Regions from separate parts of the Homo sapiens genome. Here all the other regions are linked to region 1. Evidence: fine-mapped expression QTL. A gene starts in region 1. Each other region holds a variant in brackets. All regions are shown on one strand. Distances are from middle to middle. Region 1 holds the start of PLB1 (phospholipase B1). Region 2 has its middle 23 kb from the start of PLB1. Region 3 overlaps PLB1 (phospholipase B1). Region 4 overlaps PPP1CB (protein phosphatase 1 catalytic subunit beta). Region 5 overlaps PLB1 (phospholipase B1). Region 6 overlaps PLB1 (phospholipase B1).

Evidence for each region. PIP is the estimated chance that this variant, and not a neighbour inherited with it, causes the effect. A credible set is the group of variants that fine-mapping cannot tell apart.
Region 2: its variant is the best candidate, but not a certain one, in a credible set for the expression of PLB1 in whole blood (INTERVAL, PIP 0.78).
Region 3: its variant is the best candidate, but not a certain one, in a credible set for the expression of PLB1 in monocytes (TOPMed, PIP 0.88).
Region 4: its variant is the best candidate, but not a certain one, in a credible set for the expression of PLB1 in whole blood (INTERVAL, PIP 0.73).
Region 5: its variant is the best candidate, but not a certain one, in a credible set for the expression of PLB1 in monocytes (TOPMed, PIP 0.57).
Region 6: its variant is the best candidate, but not a certain one, in a credible set for the expression of PLB1 in nasal epithelium (TOPMed, PIP 0.54).

What each region holds. Positions count from the first base shown.
Region 1 is chr2:28,494,194-28,498,280 of GRCh38, reverse strand. PLB1 (phospholipase B1) reads right to left here and starts at 2,221. Exons shown (of 58, transcript NM_153021.5): 1 at 2,112-2,221. The coding sequence starts at 2,166.
Region 2 is chr2:28,471,409-28,475,495 of GRCh38, reverse strand. No RefSeq gene overlaps it. Among named protein-coding and RNA genes, the nearest start is that of PLB1, 23 kb to the left of the region's middle. The variant G/A (reference allele first, on the strand shown) is at 2,469.
Region 3 is chr2:28,602,946-28,607,032 of GRCh38, reverse strand. PLB1 (phospholipase B1) reads right to left here. Exons shown (of 58, transcript NM_153021.5): 40 at 2,986-3,067; 41 at 2,274-2,378; 42 at 1,085-1,180; 43 at 466-537. Among named protein-coding and RNA genes, the nearest start is that of PLB1, 110 kb to the right of the region's middle. RefSeq lists enhancers at 1-124, 125-756. The variant G/A (reference allele first, on the strand shown) is at 2,275.
Region 4 is chr2:28,781,190-28,785,276 of GRCh38, reverse strand. PPP1CB (protein phosphatase 1 catalytic subunit beta) reads right to left here. Exons shown (of 8, transcript NM_002709.3): 4 at 3,435-3,539; 5 at 1,299-1,370. Among named protein-coding and RNA genes, the nearest start is that of SPDYA, 28 kb to the left of the region's middle. The variant C/T (reference allele first, on the strand shown) is at 2,416.
Region 5 is chr2:28,597,784-28,601,870 of GRCh38, reverse strand. It overlaps PLB1 (phospholipase B1), which reads right to left. Exons shown (of 58, transcript NM_153021.5): 34 at 3,823-3,866; 35 at 3,111-3,219; 36 at 1,011-1,062; 37 at 539-619. Among named protein-coding and RNA genes, the nearest start is that of PLB1, 100 kb to the right of the region's middle. The variant G/A (reference allele first, on the strand shown) is at 2,099.
Region 6 is chr2:28,546,975-28,551,061 of GRCh38, reverse strand. PLB1 (phospholipase B1) reads right to left here. Exons shown (of 58, transcript NM_153021.5): 15 at 2,131-2,202; 16 at 978-1,052. Among named protein-coding and RNA genes, the nearest start is that of PLB1, 53 kb to the right of the region's middle. RefSeq lists a silencer at 404-604 and an enhancer at 366-660. The variant G/C (reference allele first, on the strand shown) is at 1,882.

The DNA of each region.
Region 1 (4,087 bases):
CTGCCCTCCAGCCTAGGTGACAGAGTGAGACTCTATCTCAAAAAGAAATAATAATAACAACATTGGGTTCCTCTCATATACTATTCATAAAAGTCAATCCCAGATGTAGGGTGATTGACTTAAACGAGAAAAGTAAATTTATAAAGCTTTTAGAAGGAAATATAAGATATCTTCATGACCTCGAGGTAGGAGAGGAGTTATTTAAGATACAAAGAGCACAAACCATAAAGGAAGATTTAAAATACATATACTTAAGAATAAAGGCCGGGCACGGTGGCTCACACCTGTAATCCCAGCTCTCTGGGAGGCCGAGGCAGGCAGATCACTTAAGATTAGGAGTTTGAGACCAGCCTGGCCAACATGGTGAAACCCTGTCTCTACTAAAAATACAAAAATTAGCCAGGCACGGCGGCAGGCACCTGTAATCCCAGCTACTCAGGAGGCTGAGGCAGGGGAATTGCTTGAACCTGGAGGGCAGAGGTTGCGGTAAGCTGAGACCAAGCCACTGCACTCCAGCCTGGGTGACACAGCCAGACTCTGTCTCAAAAAAAAAAAAAATAGAGAATATACAAATGGACAACGGTGGGACCACATATGATAACAGAACTCTGAGCCACAGTCTGCAATCGGCCAGGCCAGAGAACCAAACTGCAGCCTCTGCAGCAATCAGCCCAGAATGGTCAGGTTTGGTTAATGACTGCCATCTTCTCTATTTTTTGCTCTGCTTCCAACTCAGGACCCCTCAGAGAAAGCCAGATACACTCCCAACTGGATAACTTCAGATGCCGTGCCTCTAGTCAGCTGGTCCCTGATACCAACAACCTCCAACCAGAGCAGATCTGAAGATTTCCCTTTTTTCCACTGTGAAACTTTCCCACTCCCCTGCCTGCCTTTGAATCTTGGCCAAACATAAGTGATGTCTCGCTACAGCGAGCTCTGAATAAGTAGCCTCTGTTTGTCCTCATTTGGGTAGTCTACATTTATTTACACAAAATTAAGAATTTTGCTCATCAAAAGTCCCCATAGGAGGACAAGCTTCAGAGTGGAACAAGATATTTGTCATATATGTAACCTCCAAAGAGCTAGTACACAGCATATATGGAGAACTCCTAAAAAATCAATAGGAAAAAGACTTCAACAGGCACTTCACAAAAGAGAAACTCAAACAATCTCTATGAAAACACTCCTTGGCCTCATCAGTAATCAAAGAAATACAATCATCCTGTGCAGAAGGCATAGCAAGCATCGTCATTCTCCCCCACGGCTCAGAGCGGTAACTGACTTGCCCCAGAGAAGCCTCAAGCATGGGCTCAGACCCTAGGCAGGCCCAGGACTCTGTCCCATGCCTCCTCCACTCTCTCTGGGGAGTCAAGGGCAAGTGCCTTCTCACTCCAGACCCCGTCCTCTCATCTGGAGAAGATGAAAGATCTTTAAGGCCCTTTTCAGTTTAAAAGATTCTGCCTTCCTAAGCAAAGGGAGAGCCAATGATGGGAAGAAGAGGGGCAGAGAGGGATTGTGGCAGAGGCACAATCTACCCACAGTCATTAATGTTGGGGGGAATGGAAAGCCCTGGCTGGTTGCCCACTCAGTTCAATGAAAGCTCAGCACTCTGTTTAGCAGCACTAAAGAATGTAGGCAATCTTTTAGAATTTATCATCTGGAAATCTGTCTTCCTTTGTCCTTCAAAAACAAAACAAAGCTCATAAATGGTAATAGTAATGATCAAAATGTGCATAGTAGTAGTATTTCCATTTTAAGGATGAAAAAAATCAAGGTCCAGGGAGGTGGAAGAACTTGCCCAAAGCCACAAAGCACAAACAAATAGAATCCAGGGGTTTTTTTTGTACCATGGTACTGCTACCGGACTGCACTTCTCTCCTGTCCCAAGATCTGCCTCGCTCCCGGCAGCCTTTGGGACATGTAACCCTGTGTAGGCAGCCTCTGCATCCCATTCCGCAGGAGGCAAACCAGACTTCTTATTCTTGAACTGTACGCTTTGTGCTTTATCTCTTCAAAAGCACACACTCCTCTCACACACCCATTGCCTAAGCAACATGGGACACCAGCGGGGCTAAACCACTGGTTGTCCTCTGAGCAAAAGGCACGCTTACCTTGCCCCAGAAGCAGCAGCAGCTCCAGGAGGAAAATGCCTGGCCGCAGCCCCATGCCAGAATGCTCCAGGTGACTCGGGCCTCTGGAAGAGCTGCTCCAGCAGATGGATGGGCTATCACACCTCCTCCTGCTTTTATGTTCCTCTGTGTTCTGATAGAGCACCTGTCATAAATTTTACTGTGTTCACCTTTGAAAGGGGGTAGTGGCGGGCTGTAAATGATAAATATTAACACTTAGGCGGAAGAGTTCTTAAGGCAGATGAGTCAATGATGGGTAGCATGTTCTAGTCATAGACACTGACAGACCAGGGCCGCATAGCTGCCTCCATACAGCCTTCCATGATGGTGGGTGCCCAGAAATTGCCGGTGTTCGGGTCTGCTGGGAAGAACGTGGGCCTGGGAATCCCAGGTGCTGGTCGGAATTCCAAATCAACCACAGCTGTGGGAACTTGGGTGTATCCCTTAACGTGGCCTCAGCTTTCTCAGTTGTAAGCCAGGAGATCAAAAGTACCTTGTAACAAATGTAAACCATAAACCTACCTCCAAATGTGAAACGTGTTCCCACCGTGTCTCAGAAGCTCTGCTAGGTTCCCTGGTTTGCATGACACAGAGAGGTTTGTTCTGTTCCCCCCATCTCCAAACCCATGGGTGGCCAGTTGTGTTGGGTGGATGTGCACACCATAGATTTGTTGTCTGCATGTTGAATTCAGAGATACAAGCCAGAGAGGGGGAACCAAGTTTGACAAAATCAGCCGTTTCCTTTGGGTAAACTAAGTCAGGAATGCAGGCTGGGTCTAAACTGGGCAGACAAAGCTGGCATTTAAAGCCTGAGTGACAAATACCCTTGAGAGTAGAATTTAAATTTTTTACACAAATATCAAGAAACAATTGCCTTGGTTGATAGGAACAAATATATTTAAATTATCCTTGCTTTCTGGCCATGCTTGTGGGTGTGAGGCTGGGATCCTGACTTCTGAGGTCTAGCTAAGACTCTAGGGCTGGTTCCCATGACCCAACCTCAGATTCTGATCTCCTGGCTGACCCACTTTTCTCATATTTAAAAATCACAGCCAGACACAGTGGCTCACACCTGTGATCCCAGCACTTTGGAAGGCTAAAGAAGGAGGATTATTTGAACCCAGGAGTTTGAAAACCAGCCTGGGCAACTCCATCTCTACAAAAAATAAAAATAAATTAGCCAGGCATGGTGGCATGCACCTGTAGTCCCAGGTACTTGGGAGGCTGAGGCAAGAGGATTGCTTGAGCCCAAGAGTTCAAGGTTGCAGTGAGCTATGATTGCACCACTGCACTCCAGCCTGGACAAGAGCAAGATTCCATCTCAATTAAAAAAAAATTGTTTTTAATTACTGTTATAACCTCTATTGTCTTGAGTAGAAAGTGAAGACGAAGTGAGTGGCCCTTTGTTCCTGAATCTCTGGTTTTAGGATGTTGTCTCCCTTTCTCAACTGCTCAGAAAATATGTGACTTGTGGGTCACCACTGATTTAGCCAATGCCAAAGGCTTAGCCTAAGCCTCAGGACTGTAGGGGGGTATTGGGACATGCCAGAGGTGTGTGGACACTGACACACTTAGTCCAGCTGGCCATCAGCTAGTTCCAGAGCCTAGAAGAGGGCAGCACACACAGACACACAGAAAAGGAAGAAGAAAATACACCCAAGGCCAAGGTCTGTGGGGGACAAGTGAGCACAGATGCCCCTGGATATGTAGACACTTGTCAACTTCACCAAACTGCCCCCAAGTTCAATGAGAAGCCAGAGCTGCTGTCCCACTAAGGATGTCAGGAGTTTACCCAGCTCCATGCCACCAGCAGCTTTGAGGAGCATCACTGAACTTGCCTGGGCTGAATAGGCCAAGGTCCCCACTCATGTGCAGGCCAGCTGGAGGTGGGGTGGAAAGGACATGGGGCATGCGCAGAAGTAAGTTGGTTCCACGCTCCAGGTACTCGCTCCATCTCT
Region 2 (4,087 bases), 23 kb after region 1:
AGGAGCCCAGTCAGGAGGCTGTCACTCTCCAAGCCAGAGCTGAAGGAGGCTCATGGTGGTGGAGAAGGAGGAAGGTGGTGGGAGGTGAGGCCAGCTGGACTTCCGGGGTTGAGTGGGGACTTAGGGAACTTCCCTGTCTCACAAGAGGATTGTAAAATGCACCAATCAGCACTCCATAAAATGCACCAATCAGCGCTCTGTAAAACACACCAATCAGCACTTTGCAGCTAAAGCACCAGTTTGGGGCCAATAAGGGAAAGGATTCTAAAAGTAGCCAATCACGGGGAGGATTGAAAAAAGGCACTCTGATAGGACAGAAATGGAACATAGGAGGGGACAATAAGGGAATAAAAGCTGGCCACCCCAGCCAGCAGCAGCAACCCACTTGGGTCCCCTTCCATGCTGTGGAAGCTTTGTTCTTTCACTCTTCACAATAAACCTTGCTACCGCTCACTCTTTGGGTCTGTGCCATCTTTAAGAGCTGTAACACTCACTGCGAAGGTCCCCGGCTTCATTCTTGAAGTCGGCCAGACCACGAACCCACCAGCAGGAACCAATTCCAGACACAGTGGGTAAGGAGATGTTCAGGAAGTGAAACTGATGGATGATGTGTGTAGGTAACGAAAGATCTCTGACCTTTGCACTGGAATGGATGCACTTCATTCCCTGCATAGGGATCACTGGGCATGGGAATTTTGGAAGAATGCAGAGGGAAATCATCAATGCAGATGTGGACACAAGCAGCATGCAGTGCCTTTAGGACACACACTCAAGAGATGCCGGAGGGGCAGGTAGACCCATGGATCAGAAACTCAGATGAGAACTCTGGGCCAGAGTGGCTAAGAGTCAGATGCAGTCACTCAAGCTGTGGCAGCAGAGCCTGCTAGGAGAGAGAACAAGGGGGAAGGGAAGGGCCTGGGGAACTCTTAATGATATTTAATAGCTGGGCAGATAAGAAAAAATCCTACAGTGCAGACAGAGGAAAAACTGATTGGAGAAGTAAAAGGTTTGTGTCAGGGAGAGAAGTATGTTTTTAAAATAGAGAATACTGCTGAAAAGTCAAGGATATGAGGCCTGGAAAATTGGGTTTTCTCAATAAATAAAAATAAAATAAAAATTGCTGACCTTAGTGGGATCCCTAGAGCCTCAGCTCAGTGTCCCTGGGCACCTATTTCCAATCTGGAATTTTTTTTTTTAAGAGACAGAGTCTCACTCTGTCATCCAGGCTGGAGTGCAGTGGCACCATCAACGCACTGCAGCCTTGAGCCTGGGCTCAAGTGATTCTCCCGCCTCAGCCTCCAGCGTAACTGGTACTACAGGCACACACCATCATGCCTGGCTAATTAAAAAAAATTTTTTTTTTTTAGAGATGGGCTCTTGCTATGTTTTGCTCAAGCTGGTCTTGAACTCCTGGTCTCATGTGACCCTCCCACCTTGGCCTCCCAAAGTGCTGGGATTATAGGCATGAGCCAATGTGCCCAGCCACCACTCTGGTGTGTCTGGAATTGGTGGGTTCTTGGTCTCACTGACTTCAGGAATGAAGCCGCGGACCCTCGCGGTGAGTGTTACAGTTCTTAAAGGCGGCGTGTCCGGAGTTTGTTCCTTCTGATGTTCGGATGTGTTCGGAGTTTCTTCCTTCTGGTGGGTTCATGGTCTCGCTGACTCAGGAGTGAAGCTGCAGACCTTTGCGGTGAGTGTTACAGCTCTTAAGGCAGCATGTCTGGAGTTGTTCCTTCCTCCCAGTGGCTTCGTCGTCTTGCTGGCTTCAGGAGTGAAGCTGCAGACCTTCACGGTGAGTGTTACAGCTCATAAAGGCAGTGTGGACCCAAAGAGTGAGCAGTAGCAAGATTTATTGCAAAGAGCGAAAGAACAAAGCTTCCACAGTGTGGAAGGGGACCCCAGCAGGTTGCCACTGCTGGGTTGGGCAGCCTGCTTTTATTCTCTTATCTGGCCCCACCCACATCCTGCTGATTGGTCCATTTTACAGAGAGCTGATTGGTCTGTTTTGACAGGGTGCTGATTGGTGCATTTACAATCCCTGAGCTAGACACAAAAGTTCTCCACGGTCCCCACTAGATTAGCCAGATACAGAGTGTCAATTCGTGTATTTACAAACCCTGAGCTAGACACAGAGTGCTGATTGGTGCATTTACAAACCTTGAGCTAGATACAGAGTGCTGATTGGTGCCTTCACAATCCCTTAACTAGACATAAAGGTTCTCCAAGTCCCCACCAGATTAACTAGATACAGAGTGCTGATTGGCGCATTCACAAACCCTGAGCTAGACACAGGGTGCTGATTGGTGTGTTTACAAACCTTGAGCTAGATATAGAGTGCTGATTGGTGTATTTACAATCCCTTAGCTAGACATAAAGATTCTCCAAGTCCCCACCAGACTCAGGAGCCCAGCTGGCTTCACCCAGTGGATCCTGCACTGGGGCCGCAGGTGGAGCTGCCTGCCAGTCCC[G/A]CGCCATGTGCCCACACTCCTCAGCCCTTGGGCGGTCAATGGGACTGGGTGCCATGGAGCAAGGGGCGGTGCTCGATGGGGAGGCTCAGGCCACGCAGGAGCCCATGGTGGGGGAGTGGCGAGGCTCAGGCATGGCGGGCTGCATGTCCCGAGCCCTGCCCTGCAGGGAGGAAGCTAAGGCCCGGAGAGAAATTGAGCACAGCAGCTGCTGGCCCAGGTGCTAAGCCCCTCACTGCCCGGGGCCAGCGGGGCCCGCCAAGCCCACGCCCACCCAGAATTCTAGCTGGCCCACAAGCGCCGTGCAGCCCGGGTTCCCGCCCATGCCTCTCCCTCCACACCTCCCTGCAGGCTGAGGGAGCCAGCTCCGGCCTCGGCCATCCCAGGAAGGGGCTCTCACAGTGCAGCGGCAGGCTGAAGGGCTCCTCAAGCGTGGCCAGAGTGGGCACCAAGGCCAAGGAGGCACCAAGAATGAGCTGAGGGCTGCCAGGGCTGCCAGCACGCTGTCACCTCTCACTGGGACTTTTATTTGTCCATCAGTAAAGAGGAAGAGATCATCACCAAGGTCCCTCCCCTGCTGAGCATCATTCCAGAGCACCATCATGGAGGAGACGTCCCTGCCCCTGTCTTCACTTATATCCTCCCTGGGCCCCTGTCTTCACTTATATCTCACCACATCCCATGGGCATGTTTTGGGGTCACACCCCCAAAGCCACAGGGCCCATGTGTGGGTGGAAGGAAATTCCTATTCATTCAACATTCTGTGAGTGTTGGGCCTTCAGTGAGCCAAACCCATTTTAGGTGTTATGTGGAAGACAAAAAAGAGACAAGATGTGATGCCTGCCCTCAAGGATCTCATCATCTCTGGAGAGATAAGATGAACGTACTCAGAAAATAATAAAGTCTAGAAACATAACAGGAAAGTGCATGGAAATGTACACAGAGGCACCAAGTGCAAGTGGGACTCTGGGGGCAGCTGCCTGGGGAGGGGAGATTGGAGGAGGCCTTGAAAGGGTGATGTGCCCTTGCTGGAGGAGCTGGGGCAGCGGCATGGAGCTCAGGTATGACAAGATGGGTATGGGGTTGGCCTGGCATGTCTGACCAGGTGGGGTGGGGCTTCCCAGAGATGGGGTGACACAGGTGTGGCTGCTTCATTCCATCCAGGCCCACAGACCTGGGCCCAGGACCAGCCAGCACCACAGGTCCAAAACCACATTGGACAGATGTCATCCTGTAGGAACATGTTCCCCGAGGAGGGTCCCTTCAGCCCTAACTAGGATGCCTGGATACACAGACACACAGCACATCCTGGCCAGGGCGGGGGCTGTGGGAAGGATCCAAGCATTGCACTGCAGCTTTTATCACACCTCACCCTTCTCCATCCCCACAACCAAATCGATAAAGGGTCATCTCCTACCTGAACCGTTCACAAACTCCTTTCTCCCTCTTCCTGTCACCCTCACAGCTGGCCTCTTGCTCTCTTCGCTGGCATGATGGGTGCCCTTGGGCTTCTCCCTGGGCTCTGCCAGCTGGACCTTCAGCCTGGGACAAGCCTTTCTAGGCAGTTCATCCCTGAGAACACTGTGGTGGCCACATGAGGGAGGCAGATCCTCCCCCGCCCT
Region 3 (4,087 bases), 110 kb before region 1:
TGTCCTCTGTGATCCTTTCCTTGTGGAATCTCCCTAATCCAGGCTCTCCTCTCTCCAACCACAGCTCTTAAGCCTGCCTGGCTCCTGCCTGGGCCCTCTAACCTGCAGTCAGATTTTTTCATCTGCCCCAAACACCACTGCTAAGAGAAGCCCTCCTGCCATTTTCCTGGCATCCTGATTTCCTCTCTCAGGAGCCCACTTTTCTCACCGGGATCCTCTCCCTCTGCTGGGGCCCAGGCCTCCTCTCCCTGCTGCATCTCCTGTTCCCAATGACAGCTGCACTCTTGTCTCCCCTCTCACCTCCCCTGTCCATCCTCATGGACTCCCCTCCATCCTCCAAATCTCTCAGGCCTCAGTAAGGGGGCAAGATGGGTACTGAGGAAGCTGTGGTGGAGGACGAAGTGGGTAGGGCGAGCTGTGTGCCCTGGTTTGTGGAGAGGAGCCAGGCAGGTCCTCCCCTACTACCTGAGTGGGACAGGTGATGGGCATCTCTGCTCTCAGGTCCAGGGTCTCTGTTTTGCTTCCAAGTGGTTCAAGCTGATCAGGGAAGAAAAGAGAGACACGGGTGTAGTAGTTTGTTTCCATGGAAGTGAACATTCCCTGGCAGAATCCTGCAGTGGGGAAAGCTCAGAACTCGATTTCAGGGGGCTTGGCTCCCACTTCTGGCTCTGCCAGTTGCCAGCCGTGGGGTTTTGGGCCAGTCGCTTTGCTTCTCTGGGAGTAGCTTCCTTGGAGACTCGTCATGCTTCTCTAGCAGGGATATGCAGAGCCTTAAATGAGATAACGTGGCTTAAACTGCCTAACATGGTGGCCGGCACATAGGGAAAGTGGAATGAATATGGGGTTTTGGGCTTGCATTTCTGTAGAGAGGTCCCTCCTCAGAGTTCAAAGCTCTGAGGAGAGGGTGCAGTTGAGCCCAGGCTGAGCAGACTCTTAAGGACTCCGCATTTCCAACTGCATAGACGTTTATAGATGTACCAGCCACTGCCCCCTCAGCCTCACTTGCAAGACTCCATTCTATAGGGGCTGGTGCCCTGCCCTAGACTAGAACCCCAGAGAACAAGGAACACCCCACTTATTTTACCATATTGGTCCAAAGGGCTCTGGCCAGCTGGGAGTGGAATTTCTGATTTGGGTGGATGCAGTCTGGGGCAAAGAAGGACGTATCTGGGAGCCCATCCTGAAAGAGACCAATATACCCCCTCAAGATCCTATTGGTTCAGAGGGAGCCACCACCAGCGGACTTGGCCCTGGGACTGACCACTCAACACCTTCCTTCCCCTGGAGTGCTCCAGGTCACCAGCCACCACAGGGCCCATTCACCTTAACAGAGAGATCAGAGCGATCCCACAAAGAATAGTTTTGGGTGACGCCAACCCCCAACCTTCCTTTTTGACCCTACAAGTGCCCCTTATTCAATTAGAAGTGTCGTATTTATTTTTGGGCACATTCATGTAATGCCCGAGGCCATGCCACAGATGAAGGAGTGGGATCCTGGTCCCGCAGAGAGTCTTAGCCCAGCCAGCTGGGAAAAGCTACTTCCCAGCTTTTGGTCTGCTGGTCCTGGTAGTCTTGGTGGGGAGAATGGAACAAAGCCTTGGGGAAGGCCTGGGTAGTTGGGTCCCCTGACTCCAGCCTCTTCATCTGGAGGTGCTGGGGGTGCATAGAGCTGCTCTCCTTCCTGCTTTCCAGTTAGGTGAGGCTCTTGGGATGGCAGCCCAGGGGGACAGACCTCAGTCCTCACCTGGTCCACTCACAGATCTCTTCTGTTCAGAGTGGAAGTGCCAGGCAAAGGGCATGGCCTGGGTGGAAACAGAGAACCCCCAGAATGCTCCCTTATAACCGCAGCGTTGCACACGAGAGAGACCACGTGCGTGGCAGAAAACTAGTCATCTGGAGCTGGCTGTGTTCATGTTGGCCTCCCTGTCCCTTATTTCCTAAATGATCTTAGGAAGGACGCTTCACATCTCTGCACCTGTGTTCCATGCGGATGATCACACTCATTTCCAAAGGCAGATGTGACAGTTTTATCTATGGGAAGCACAGTGCCTGGCACTAGTAGGTGCTCAACACAATGGAGGCTGTTACAGGGGTCATGGGAGCCTCGCACATACGGATGTGGCTCAGGCGTTCAGGGAGCCTGCACCTGCCAGCACAGCGTCTGGAGAGCTGTGTCTTTCCCATTTTATGCACATGCTCGTGGAAGCAACTGGCAATTCTGCCTTGCATTTCTTCCTCTAAAAGAGTACCATGGGTGAGGGCAGGGGACATACC[G/A]CCAGGACAGGGAGCTGGATGTTCTGGAAGAAGGGCTGCAGCACCACAGAGAAGTCCTCCTGCGTGTCATAGCGGCCTGACCCCACCAGCTCGCGCATGCTGCTCTGGGGACACATGCACAGGGTCTTCAGCCCAGGCCCTGGGTGGGCCCAGGACCCAGTGAGGCAAGAGTAGGGGTGGTGGGCAGTCCATCTCCCTGGATGGAGGGGCCGACTCAGCCTTTCCCTTGAGAACACAAATCACCTGAGGGCAAGTCCCTTTCCAGAGAATTTGGAAACAGGTTGGGTCACCTTTTTGTTTTGATTGTAAGTAGACTACTCTCTCTGAAGGGCTAGGCAGGAAGTCCCAAAAGGGATAAAAACCTGGGAAGAACCTCCAGAGGCTCGGCACCTGCCTTTGGAGTGGGAGTGGGGGAGGGAAAGGTGGTCTCATGAGGCATCCAGGGCTACGGGCCAGGAGTTGGGGTTAAGCCCTCAACGGTAGCTGGGCCATGAGGGCTTTTCCACCTGGATCCTACTGGGATGATTCCAACCAGGGCACCTGAGACACCACAGTCACGTGAGACAGAGGAAGGCACCCAGGCTGCTCCCCGTCTCCCCACAATCCCTGACCAGCTTTTCCTTCCCTGTGTGCCTCCTCTAGGGGCTCTGGGCTGTGTGTTAGAGTGAACGTAGGGGAGAGGACACAGCATGGTGCCCTTCTTGGTCTTACCCGGTAGGCTCGGCTGAAGGCCTCCAGCCTGGCTAGCTCTTGGGAGTTCTCCCGCAGGGTCAGAACGCAGTTACACAAAACGCTGCACAAAGAGGGGGAGGCAGGAGGCCCCAGAGCTCAGGCTTCCATCAGGGGCTGGTTCTGATTGCCCAGGTTCAGGGGAGGGGTGGAGAGGCTCCCTCCCGCCCTGGTTTAGGAGCACTCAAGCCTTGAGGCTCTGGCGCACATGCTCAGGGGCAGGCTTCAGGCCTGGCAGGGGCACTGGAGATGGCCCGAGGGAGGGAGCCAGTGTGGGAATGAGCACCCTCTCATACCAACAGAGCACAAGTGTTGGACTGCAGGTGCTGGGCCTGCAACCGATTATTCAGCTGAGCAAATGAATTTGGGCAGTGAAAATTTAGTGTTTAATTAAAAAGAAAATGCATCCTCTGGTGTTGGAGCTGATATTTTGGGGCCTCTGATGCTATGCCTTAGACCTCTCCTTCTTTCACATGAGTGCCCTACTGTGTCCCCTTTGGTTTCATCATGAATTATTTCACACCCATCACATCTACTTAAGAGAGAGATTTCTAAAGCACTTGAAACAATGCCTGGTACACAGGAAGTTCTGTAAGATTTGCTGAGTAAATAGATGTGTAAGATATAAAGAATAATAAAACACACATCCATGTACTTATGGCCCAGTTTAAGAAACAAAACACTCCCAGTTTGAAGCTCCCTGTGTCCCTCCTAATTCTCTTCTTCCCCTAAAGGTAACTGAGTTGCTTGTACCTTTTCCTTGCTTTCTGTTACAGTTTGACCACATATGTCTACTTCCCTAACCACTGCCCATGTTCACAGTCTAGGCTATCCTGTCTCTCAAACACCAGCCTCTGTCCCAACTTTGATCCCTCCCCTCTGTGGCTGCCTGGTATCATAGAAGTTCCTGCCAGGCACCTTGAAGTTGGGTAACAGGGGAGTCATGGCTCCAGCCTCTGGAAGGGGACGTTCTGGCAGAAGTCCTCCTTTACAGACTTGGACACATGGATAGACCAAGTCACAAAGACCCTGAGGCATCACCACTGCATGTGGGCCAGACCAGGAGGTGAGGGCATCTCCAGTG
Region 4 (4,087 bases), 290 kb before region 1:
TGGTGAAACCCCATCTCTACTAAAAATACAAAAAATTGGCCGGGTGTGGTGGCGGGCGCCTGTAGTCCCAGCTACTCGGGAGGCTGAGGCAGAAGAATCACTTGAACCCGGGATGCAGAGCTTGCAGTGAGCCGAGGTTGCACCACTGCCCCCCAGCCTGGTGACAGGGCAAGACTCTGTCTCAAAAAAAAAAAAAAAAAAAAAAAAAAAAGCTCCTAACACAATTTATTACAACATACAGTGTATTACATGGCTACTGACATCAGAGGATCTATACCATTTATAATGGTTGATGTGTAGTTCTGAGCAGCATTTTTTGTGGTGATTGTTGTTTCTTTTTTCTTTTTTTTTTTTTTTTTGAGACAGTTTCACTCTGTCACCCAGGCTGGAGTGCAGTGGTGTGATCTCGGCTCACTGCAACCTCTGTCTCCCAGGTTCAAGCAATTCTCGTGCCTCAGCCTCTTGAGTAGCTAGGATTACAGGAACGCACCACCATGCCCAGCTAATTTTTGTTATTTTTAGTAGAGATGGGGTTTCATCACGTTGGCCAGGCTGGTCTGGAACTCCCGACCTCAAGTGATCCTGCCCACCTCAGCCTCCCAAAGCGCTGGGACTACAGGCGTGAGTGCCACTGCTCCCAGCCTTCCCAGAGATTTCCAATGTAATTTTCACAAAACTGACCACAGGTCTCTAGAGCCTTAAGAGCTCTAAAAATTTAAGCCAGGTATGGCACATGCCTGGAGTCCCCTAGCTACTCAGAAGAGGCAGGAGGATTGCTTGAGCCTAGGAATTCAAGGCCAGCCTGGGCAACAGATTGAAATCCCTCCCACACCCCCTTGAAAAAAAGCTCTAAAAATTTCAAATAGAGGACATAGAAAATAACAAAAAACTACTAGACATTTGAAAAGAAGGTAGTTGTATCCTTGCCTAAGAAGCAAAGAATAGATTATTTTAATTAAAAAACTTTTGTCTAATTTAACAAATTTTTGAAGAACATAACCAATGCTAGTATGAATGAGGGAATTTAGAAAAATAGGTATAAGGACTCAACAGCAAAATCTTTTTTGTGATCAAATAACTACATTATGACTATAAATAAAAAGGTTCCGCATTTTGAGGATCAGTGCAAAGTGAAAAATTGTGTATTACTGCAAATAAAGTAATCTGTAGCTGGCTTATTGACTATGAAAAAAGCTCTTTTATTTATTACATAAGCCAATCCTACTTCCACTAAATGTAATCAAGTTCAAATATGAAAACACTTTACACAAAACAATTAAACTTCTCTCTACACTTACCTGTATCAGGGACATCAGTAGGTCTCATAATTCTCCGAATCTGCTCCATAGATTGCAGGTCTGGTGACAATCCTATAAATAAAAAGATGAGACATAGTACTAACAGCTAAAAATTTTAATATTTTAACAGTCACCGAATAAAAAGCATTTAATCAAAATAGATTCACTATGTGAAATTAAAGATACTGAAAAGTGTTCCTTTTAACGTCTTTTTTTTTTTTCGAGACAGAATCTTACTCTGTCACCCAGGCTGCAGTGCAGTAGCGTGATCTCAGCTCACTGCAACCTCCACCTCCCGGGTTCGAGCGATTCTCCTGCCTCAGTCTCCCGAGTAGCTGGGACTACAGACGCGCGCCACCACATCCAGCTAATTTTTTGTATTTTTAGTAGAGACGGGGTTTCACCATGTTGGCCAGGCTGGTCTCGATCTCTTGACCTCATGATCCAACCACCTTGGCCTCCCAAAGTGCTGAGATTACAGGCGTGGGCCACCGCGCCCTGCCCCTTTTAATGTCTTAAAGGGCAACACAGAGTTATTAGGAATTCCACTTTGATATAATACAGCATTATAATTGTTTTTTTCCATTTTTCCCTACCAGGGAAATGAAATTCCTTTATATTTCAAAAGACTTCCCAAGGAAAAAAAAAACTACCATTCTTTTTTCCAATCATTCCCTGGCCTTCATAGAAACATAATCAACTGCAACCCTTCCTACCACTTTTGCCAGTTCTTACCACTAATCTTAAACATTTTAACTTCTAAGTGAAAGTGCCTCACTTGGTTCCCTAAGACCTTCTTTTCACATCCCACTCCAACATGTTCATTATCTTCATGAAGTCATAAACTATTGATCAGAAGGATTAACAGGAAAAGCTCATAAAAATACTCTGCAATCTTTGAAGTGGTATATAAGCTATTATTTCTCTCTGATAGGCAATCCAAGTATCATCACAAGGAATGAAGCTAAACATTCGTATCCATACTGCTACACTTCTATCCTTAGCTACACTAATGTACAAGAACTACAATTCATTACGTGTTTAATGTCTACTGGAAAACATATTTCAATTAATATAGTGAATTATGTTCTGCCAGAGAATAAACCATTTATTACCT[C/T]GGGCCTAGGCAAGTGCATCTATCTTTTCAGCGTTTTTCCACTTTAATTCTTCCCGTATATTGATGAAAAACTAATTTTCTTACACTATTTCCATTAAATTACTTCCCTGTACAAAAACCCAATACGGTTATTAAATCACTCAACAAACTCCGTTGCTCAATAGTCAAATCTCCATAATCTGATTCCATCATTTCCCAGCATGTACTTGACCTTCTAGTCAGGCCAGTTCTTACACATTCCCTAAACTAGACAACAAAGAGTGTCTCAAGTCCTTTTAACTTCTCCAAAGCCTATTTATCCTCTAAAACCCATGCCTCCATACACACATGTACCCAGTCTTTCCTCCTCCTGACTTCTCATAGTGTCTTAATAAGTTCTGACATATTAAATACCTTTTATTACTCAATTATCTGTTTCATAAATGTATCTTAGCAACAGGTTTTTAACTCTTCAAGATGGTCAGATCATACACTATCTACTAGCTAGGTGTTAGACATATACATTAATTTTTCAAATAAACTTTCAAAAAACTTCAAGCTTATTTCATAAGCCATACAGAGTAACCTACCAATCTGCCAAAGATTATTTTATTATTTTATTGTTAATACTAAAGCAAATATATTATATGAAGCCTAGAATTCTTGATATATGTGAATATGAAACTCAATTTTATTTGGATTCTGATGAAAGATTTCAATATAGGCAGGAAGATATCCTCTCATTTTTACTAATAAATAGCAGGGGTGTCTTTCTGTTAAAACTTGAGGCAAAGGAGACTTTCTCAAACAACTCTAGTTACACTCCTTATATGTGAAACTGTATTTAAAGAAGCATTACGTTTTCATTTATAAATAAATTTCTAATTTTTAAAAGAGGTTTAGCCATGTTTAAAACAGTTTTAATCACTTGAGTTTTCATACAAGCACTGCTTTGTTTTCCCACAGCCTCTTGATTATTATAGGTATTTTCCGAATAATAGAAGAAAAAAAAAATCTGTAAGGCAAATTTACTAGTCTACCTCCATGACAACAGAAGATCTTCTCATCCACAATGGCTGCTATAGGCAGACAGTTAAAACAATCAGTGAAGGTCTTCCACAATTTAATATTAAATCTTCGTTTGCCTGTAAAAAGAACAGATAGAATAAATTAAAAAATCTAAAACTGTTCTCATCAGTTATCTCAAAGCCGCAGGATTATGAATGATTTCAATTTTCTTCATTTCTTCATGTTTATCTATAAAGAAGAACTTTTTCTACAATGCAAAGATGTTATTTACGTACTTTCAAAAAGGCAACAACTACAATAAACATTCAATACCTTCAGTAAAGTTACCAAGACTTCAAAGATTGTGCTGGGGGTAGGGGTGGGATGGGAAGATGTTGGTCAAAGAATACAAAGTATCAGTTGGGTAGTAGGAATAAATACAGAAGATCGATTGTATAACAGTGACTACAGTTAACACTATATTGTATCTTTGTAAAATGCTAAGAGTAAATTTTAAGTGTTGTTTTCTCCCAAAATGCTAACTTTTTGAGGTAATGCATATGTTAAATCAGCGGGATTTAACCATTCTGCAATGTATATATACTTCAAAACATCATGTTGTACATCATAAATACATAGAATTTCTGACAAATAAAATAAACCTAATCAAATTTAACACTTAAAA
Region 5 (4,087 bases), 100 kb before region 1:
AGGAACTGGTTAGGGTGGGAGGGCAGTGGGGCAGTTCTCAACTTCCCTTCTGGCTCCAGCCCTGAGGACTTGTTCCCCCTCTAGCCTCCAGCTGTGGCCAGCTCACCATGTCAAAATCTGAGATGAACAGTTGACTACTTGCTGTTGTCAAAGATGGGCCAGTGGGAAGACTGGAACCTTCAGCCAGAGCTTTGGTTCAGGAGCAGAAAGTGGAGACTCCTCCTTCCAATTGCTTGCTACAGTTTCCTCTTTCTGAATTCTCAGGAGTTATAAGAGAGAGGAGTAGAAATACCATATATCTGCCACCTGCTACCTCACCACCTAGGACATGGAGATGGTGCCAAGGACCTGGAGGGTGGTGGGGTAAGAAGTGTGTGTGTGTGTGTGTGTGTGTGTGTGTGGTATGTGTATATGTGCAGACATAGGTGTAGGTGGATAATCCTAGGATTGGTTTTAGGAACTGTTCTCAGGGAAGATCTCCAACGCCTACTGGGCAAAGTTAGGAACAACAAGTAGGCCTGGACCTGGCCCCAATTACCGAATCTGTGCAGTAGTCACATAAATCGCTGCCTCCGATCAGCACTGTGATGACCTTCCAGTCTTCATGGAAATTTACTCTCTATATGGAGGGAGGAAAATGCTTGATAATTTCCAACAAGGAAATGAAAATATCCCTGCCCTAGGAAATCCATTCAACCCTCTATAACATCCTTGCCCACTTGAAATAATGGAATCAGCATCTCTGAACTGAAGGAATTTTAGAGGTTTATTTATAGACCACAGACTCTTAGCATCAGGAGGGATTTTCAGTGTCGCTGTACCCAGCAACAAAGCTCTCTCCATTGACATACCCTCCTCCACAGGACCTCTGTCAGGGGGCTGTCCGACCACTGCTTGAATGCCTCTAATAACATGGGGCTCACTGCTTTTCAGAGCAGGCCACTCCGTTTGGAGACAACTTTAGTGGGTTAGAAAATTAATGTTTAGAAATAACAGTAAATCTGACTCACATGATCATCTTTCATCTTCTGCATCAGAGTTTGGACTTGGCTCATAAGATCCCTGAGAAAGAGAGAAAACCCATCCTTCTGTTGAGGAACAGTGCCCATAGTTTTCCTCCTAGAGGGCCTGAACCAGAGGCTTCTACAGTATCATCCCCACTGCATGAGCTGGCAGAGATCCCGAGGCTCAGAAACCAGGAGTGACTTGCCTCTTCTGGAAAGTTATTACAACAGATAATCATTTGAAAAGCCAATGATGTGTTTGTCCTACAGCTGTAGTCAAAGTACTGCCAATTATATTTGTTGCTCATGGTCACCTTTCTGGGACTCCACATGCAAAAGGGCCTTTAGGATTCCATGCTAAGAGACCATTCATCTCCTTTGGAAGACTAGTTTAGATCCTAAAATTAGACCTATGAAACTTCTAGCATGCTTCCTCTTTTCACTCTGGCTGCCAGGAAGCTGAGTTTGATGCTCAAACATAATAACCGTAAAAATGTTCATATCGACACACAGGCTTCCTCTTTATTTCCTCCAATGGCTGCGATTTTTCTCTTACGTATATTCTTTTGTTTGTAAACTTATCTAAATGGTTCTTTCAAAAAGAGGTAGGGAATCATATGTGCTCTACACATGCTTGGGTTTATAATTTATGGAAGGTGGCAGGCCTGGTGGCTCACGCCTGTAATCCCAGCACTTTGGGAGGCTGAGGTGGGTGGATTGCTTGAGTCCAGGAGGTTGAGACCAACCTGGGCAACATGGTAAAACCCCATCTCTACAAAAATTACAGAAAAATTAGCCAGGTATAGTGGTACATGCCTGTAGTCCCAACTACTAGGGAGGCTGAGGTGGGATGATTGCTTAAACCTGGGAGGTGAAGGTTGCAGTGAACTGAGATCATGCCATAGCACTCAGCCTAGGTGACAGAGTGAAACCCCATCTTAAAAACAAAAAAAGGCCAGGTGCAGTGGCTCATGCCTGTAATCCAAGTACTTTGGGAGGCAAGGTGGGTGGATCACTTGAGGTCAGGAGTTTGAGACCAGCCTGGCCAACAGGTGAAATCCTATCTCTACTAAAAATACAAAAATTAGCTGGGC[G/A]TGATGGTAGAAGCCTGTAATCCCAGCTACTCGGAGGCTGAGGCACAAGAATCACTTGAACCTGGGAGGCGGAGGTTACCGTGAGCAGAGATTGTGCCACTGCATTCCAGCCTGAGTGATAGAATGAGACTCTATCTAAAAAAAGGCCAAAATTATAATTTATGGAAGGAATAGATTTCAGGCGTCTGTGCTCCCCACTTCCACTTGTTCAGGGCCCCGTTATAGACCTGGGTGGGATGGATCCATAGCAAGGTGATCTCCTAGGACACGGTGGTGGGACCATCTGTCCCCAGCTGTTTCTATTACCAAGAGTCTTTCCAGGCTGAGGGAGTGGGTCTGGGGGCCACACCCCTCAACCAGAAGGTGTGGGCCTGAGCAAGAAGATGACATGTGACAGAGGCTCAGATGGCTGAGCCAGGAGCTGCATAGAGCAAGAAGACCTAGGCTGCTGGGGCCTCTAGGAGCAGGGTGGGGGCCCCTTTGGAGCCCACCCCAGGAGGCTGGGCAGTTGCTCTTCTTTGGGTACCTCTGGGCTTCTCCATTCCATTTCTTGTTAGCTCCATAATGGGGCTAGGGAGGGGACATGACTCTTTGCTCCAGATGCCTCTAGGGCCAGAAGGCTTGCCCCATCCATTTGGTTGGCCCTCTCTGATCTTTTTGGGAAATTGCCACTTGTGAGGTTCTGCGGGGAGTGGATCTCTCTAGCACTGTTGTGCCTTGGTGAGTTGTAAACATTGGATAAGGTTAGTCGATTCGTCCAATTATGAGAACATGCTGCACATGAAGGCAAGGTCAGGAGTTGAACCTATAGGGGCATCGCATCTCTCCAAGGCCACAGCCTCTCTGGCCTATTACAACCTTCGTCACAGGGGCAGCAGGGAAGAGGGCAGCCTGAGCCTCACAAGTGGCTAAGTGCCCCTTTGCACATAGAGGCCAGCCCCATGGTCTTAAAGGGTACTATCCACATTCCACTCCCTGCTCTGCAGGCTCCCTCCCTCCCCAAATGCCATACTCAGCCTTTGCTCCGGGAACAGCTTGATTGAGGAATGCATTCGTGTCATTGGCATCACCCGTGCCCACGGCGTAGCCTGTGAGGTTTCTGTTAAACTCCCGAAGGATATCTGGAAGAGAAGGTGAATGGGATGCAGACGGCTCAGAACAGAAAGCCAGAATAGCTTCTCTGGTACTGTGGGACCTAGGTCCCCAAAGTGGGCTGTGTTATCATCCTCATGCTTCCTGGGGAGAGGCAGGGAGGCAGTGTGTGTCCTGGACATAAGCTGGGACCACCCTAAGTTGACATGACCTGATGACTAGGTGGGCCAGGGTGGCAAGAGCCTCTCACTCTTGTATTAAATTGTATTAATACAATTCACAGTGCATTGAAGGGTCACTACCTAATTTGTCTCAGCACCTCCTGGGCCTGTTGGAAAAGCCTGAGGCTAAAAATAGCGGGTAACTTGCCCTAGGTCACCTGACAAGCACATCGGAGATTGAACCCAGCACCAGGGATTGAAGCACCAGGGATTGAACTCAGATCTTCAGGCTCTAAATCTGGTGTTTATTTTACCTGCCTCGGCTGCTTTTTCATAGCCTCCTGTCTCCTACTTAAATGCTGGGCCATAAGGCAGATGTCATTTGCTGCTTACCTGGGAGGCACTTTCGGGAAGCCAAGGGGCCAGATGGGTGGAACAGTAGACAGATTCAAGCCCCTGATGGTTACTTACTAGGTAAGGTGGTCACATTCTCCAGGGAGCCGTCCCCTCCTGCACTGTAGGGAGTGAGCAAGCCAGTGAATGAGAGGGAGAGACATATTGGTTGAATCAATCTAGGAACTTTACACAAGAGCAGCCCCCACCCTTCTTAGTGCCCATCGGCACCTTTGAGATGGGCCAGACCCATCTCTGAGTTTGAGGAATTCTGAGAAAATTTTTAAGCCCCTAACATATTGGTTCCCTACCGAATCCAGGATTTGAAGATGAGAGAGCTGTT
Region 6 (4,087 bases), 53 kb before region 1:
CTGGGCAGTGCAGACACTCTGTCAAGCCTCCCATGCTGGTTGCGGAGGCAGCTCGGAAGATGAACTGTGGGGGAGACCTGCTTCCAGGCACCCAGGGGATGGCCACATGCTGGATCCTTCTCCCTCCCCCAGCCTGTCCTGACTGAACATCAGCGGTTAGTAGCAGACCTCCATATGCCTAGGGGCAGCGGGAGTTCCAGGATGTTAAGAACCACATGGAATGGCTGGGCGTAGTGGCTCACATCTGTCACCTCAGCACTTTGGGAGGCTGAGTTGGGTGGACCATGAGGTCAGGAGTTCGAGACCAGCCTGGCCAACATGGTGAAACCCTGTCTCTACTAAAAATACAAAAAAATAGCCGGGTGTGGTGTTGCGCGCCTATAATCCCAGCTACTCAGGAGGCTGAGGCAGGAGAATCGCTTGAACCCAGGAGGCTAAGGTTACAGTGAGCTGAGATCACACCATTGCACTCCAGCCTGGATGACATAGCGAGATTCTGTCCCCGCCCTCCTCCCACCAAAAAAAAAAAAAAAAAATTGTATTGAGGTTGCAAATCTGGCCAGTTGATCTGCTTTAAAATAATCCAGGCTGGGCGCCGTGGCTCACATCTGTAATCCCAGCACTTCGGGAGGCTGAGGCAGGCAGATTGCTTGAGGTCAGGATTTCAAGACCAGCCTGGCTAACATGGTGAAACCCCGTCTCCACTAAAAAAAATACAAAAATTAGCCAGGCATGGTGGTGTGCGCCTGTAGCCCCAGCTACTCAGGAAGCTGAGGCAGGAGAACTGCTTGAACCCAGGAGGTGGAGGTGGCAGTGAGCCGAGATGGCACCACTGAACTCCAGCCTGGGCAACAGAGTGAGACTCCATCTCAAAAGAAAAAAAAAAAAAAACCACGTGGAAGGTTCGAAAGATTCAGCAAGAAGTACAGCCCCTGGTTCATCTGCATGTTTGTCAATTACAGAAAACCTTTCCTTACCTCAAGCTTGTCTTGGGGTTTCTGCAGTCTGGTCAGGTAGTTGCTGTTTCTGTAGCTGAACAGATAGGGGCTCTCCTGCAGGGAAAGGTGACATGTTGGAATCGTGACCCTAGAAGTCTGTATCCCTTAATTATCAGGCTTCAGCATCCAGTGATGCTTTTGGCCAACTAGGAACATTCACATCACGCTTCCAGTGAGGACCAAACCATTCTCTGGCTCTTCTCTCTGGTCCCTGAAGGACTCATGAATGCGTTGACATTTCCCATTTGTGATAGCCAGTCTCTCTTGCTCTTTACCCTGGGGGTTCATGCTACCAGGCTAAGTATATATATTTTGATGAGAAGGGAATCTAATTTTAAGCTTCTTGGCAGCCAAAGCAAAAAGTGCAAGAAGGTGAATTGTATACTTATTATTGCATAGTAACAAAAAACTTACCAATTCATCAAGAAAGCCAAATACTTGACTAGCATTAAATGATAGAAAGACTAAAAATACAAAAAAATTAGCTGGGTGTGGTGGCACGTGCCTGTAGTCCCAGCCACTTGGGAGGCTGAGGCAGGAGAATCGCTTGAACCCGGGAGGCAGAGGTTGCAGTGAGCCAAGATTGTGCCACTGCACTCCAGCCTGGCAACAGGGCGAGACTCCGTCTCAAAAAAAAAAAAAAAAAAAAAAGAAAGAATCTCATTCATTTATGTCCAGTTATTTTCTCATCCACTTATTTGGAAACATTAATTATAAGCCTACTACATACTAGGCACATATTTAAGATGTAGTCAAAATGATCCACTTTTCAGGTACTTAGATACTCACCATCCCTCCCTTCTTTGCCACTCTGAGGTAGAGGAAGGTCTGGAAATGGCATCTGGGGCAGAGGGCCAGGACCCAGAGGCAGCATTTGGGGCCA[G/C]GTGAGCTGTGGCCTTGTTCCTATGCCTTCCACAGGCATGGAGGGGGCTGCAGTTTTGCTAGAACAGCTCTCATGGCCCACAACTGTAAACATTAGGGCTGCTATGTATGCAAAACTGTGTGCAGGCCCAGAAGAACAGAAACAGGATTCACATCTCAGGTAAGACCCACTTCACAGCAAAGCCCACTTGGCCACCCCACCTGCGCCCTCGATTCAATAAGAGTCCCTCCTCTGCCCAGTCCCTCCTACCTGAGAGGGACACTTCATTGGCCTCCCGTGTTTTACACTCAATGGCTCATCTTTCTCTCCTGCTGGCTCCATCTAGAAAGGAACGTGGGCTTTAGAACAGGGAAGTTTTGTGCAGGTAGCAGCCTGCCAAGTCACCAGTGAGAAAGACTCATTAGTCCAGCAGCAGTACCAGGGAACGCATTAGAAATGCACGTGTCCAGCCCCCATCCCCAAACTACTGAGTCTGAGACTCTGGGGCTGGGGCAGCAGTCTGTGTTGTAAGCAGCTCTCCAGGCGATTCTGATGCACACCCGAGTTTGAGAACCACAGCATGAGAAGCAGCATCGGTTTTATATATATATATATAGAAGGGACTTCCTAGTCTACCTCTCCTAGAAGGAAAAGCTGCACAGCAGAGGTTGAGGTGGGGCCCAGCCAGCCAGGACAGAGCTGGGACTCCAACATTGGTGTCCTGCATCCAACCAAACATCTAGCAATGGGTCACACAGCTTTCTGATCACGTGGGGGCCGGTTATCCAGCTTGGCTTCTTGTCCCCTCCTTGCTGCCCAGCTACTTTCTGGCTCACTGATTCAAGTTCCCTTAGACAGGAGAGCCAGTATGGGAAGGAAGGGCAAATGCATCGCTTTTTACATAAAGCATGTATTCTTTCCCAAGTCCTCCCCGCAGCCTGTGTCCACAACCCAAATGTAGGTAAATCTGCGCACAATAGAGAATGGAAACCCTCTGTTCCCTGAGAACTGCTTTCACAGCTTTGAGTGAAGCAAGTTATGGGGCCTGGGTCAAGTCTCATGTCTTTCACGGGGTCACAAATACAGTGACATGGAACACAGCACAGCCAACACTCACAAACCGCTAGAGTATCTAGTGAGCCAGGAGTGGGTGGTGTGGTATCCGCTGTGAAATAGGCAGCTACTTAAATGACAACCACGAAGGCCATCAAATGACATCTAATAACGTAGATAAAACATTTATAGTATAACAGCAGGAGAAACCAGCAGATTATCAACTTAGTAAAGCATTAGACATAGGGAAGTGAAGGCCGTTAAAGAATTAGAGGGAAGGAGGGATTTTTTTTAAAAGTTGTTTTTGTTATTTTTAAATGTTCATTATACATATATAAACACTTACAAAGAAAAATGCAATAGCTTGGAGGGATTGCAGATTTTCTTCTGCACGGGCTATTTCCTACTGTTGGAGAACCAGTTTTACTGTCATCTGGCTGCCCACAGGTGCTGGGCTCTGGTCGTACCTCTGGCCCTCACCTCCCCTTCCAATGACTCTGCCAAGGAACGTGGGAAGCTACTGGATGGGGCAGCCTGTCTGGCTCAGTCACAGCTTCTACCAACCTCCATGAGGATTTTCAGATTCCTCAGCGGTATCTTACCCCAGCATCTGTGCCCCAATAAGCAAGAAACAAGAAAAGAACTTTACCCTTAGTGGAATTGGCTCTTCAGCCAGACTGAAAGAGAATCAGATAAGGAGGTATAATTAGCTGAACATTTGGAAAAGGAGTGGCAACTCTCTAGCTCAAGGCCTAGGAGAGGAAATGGACTCCACGCTTCTTTCTGTTTTATTCTGATGGTGGCCGCTCCTAGAAACAAGGTCCCACCTGGAACATTCAAGGCGGCTGTCAAAGGAAGTATTGAGCAGGCCTGGGTGAGGGCCAGGTGCTGATCTGTCTTGCCACCTTCTCTTCCCCAATTTTTTTTTTTTCTTTTTTTTTTTTTTGGAGACAGGGTCTCATTCTCATTGCTCAGATTGGAGTGCAGTGGTGCGATCACAGTTCATTGCAGCCTTGACTTCCTGAGCTCCGGTGATTCTCCCACCTCAGCTTCCCGAGTAGCTGGGACTATAGGTGTGTGACACCATACCCAGCTAATTTCTTGTATTGTAGTAGAGGCAGGGTTTTTGCCATGTTGCCCAGGCTGTTCTCAAATTCCTGGCCTTAAGCATTCC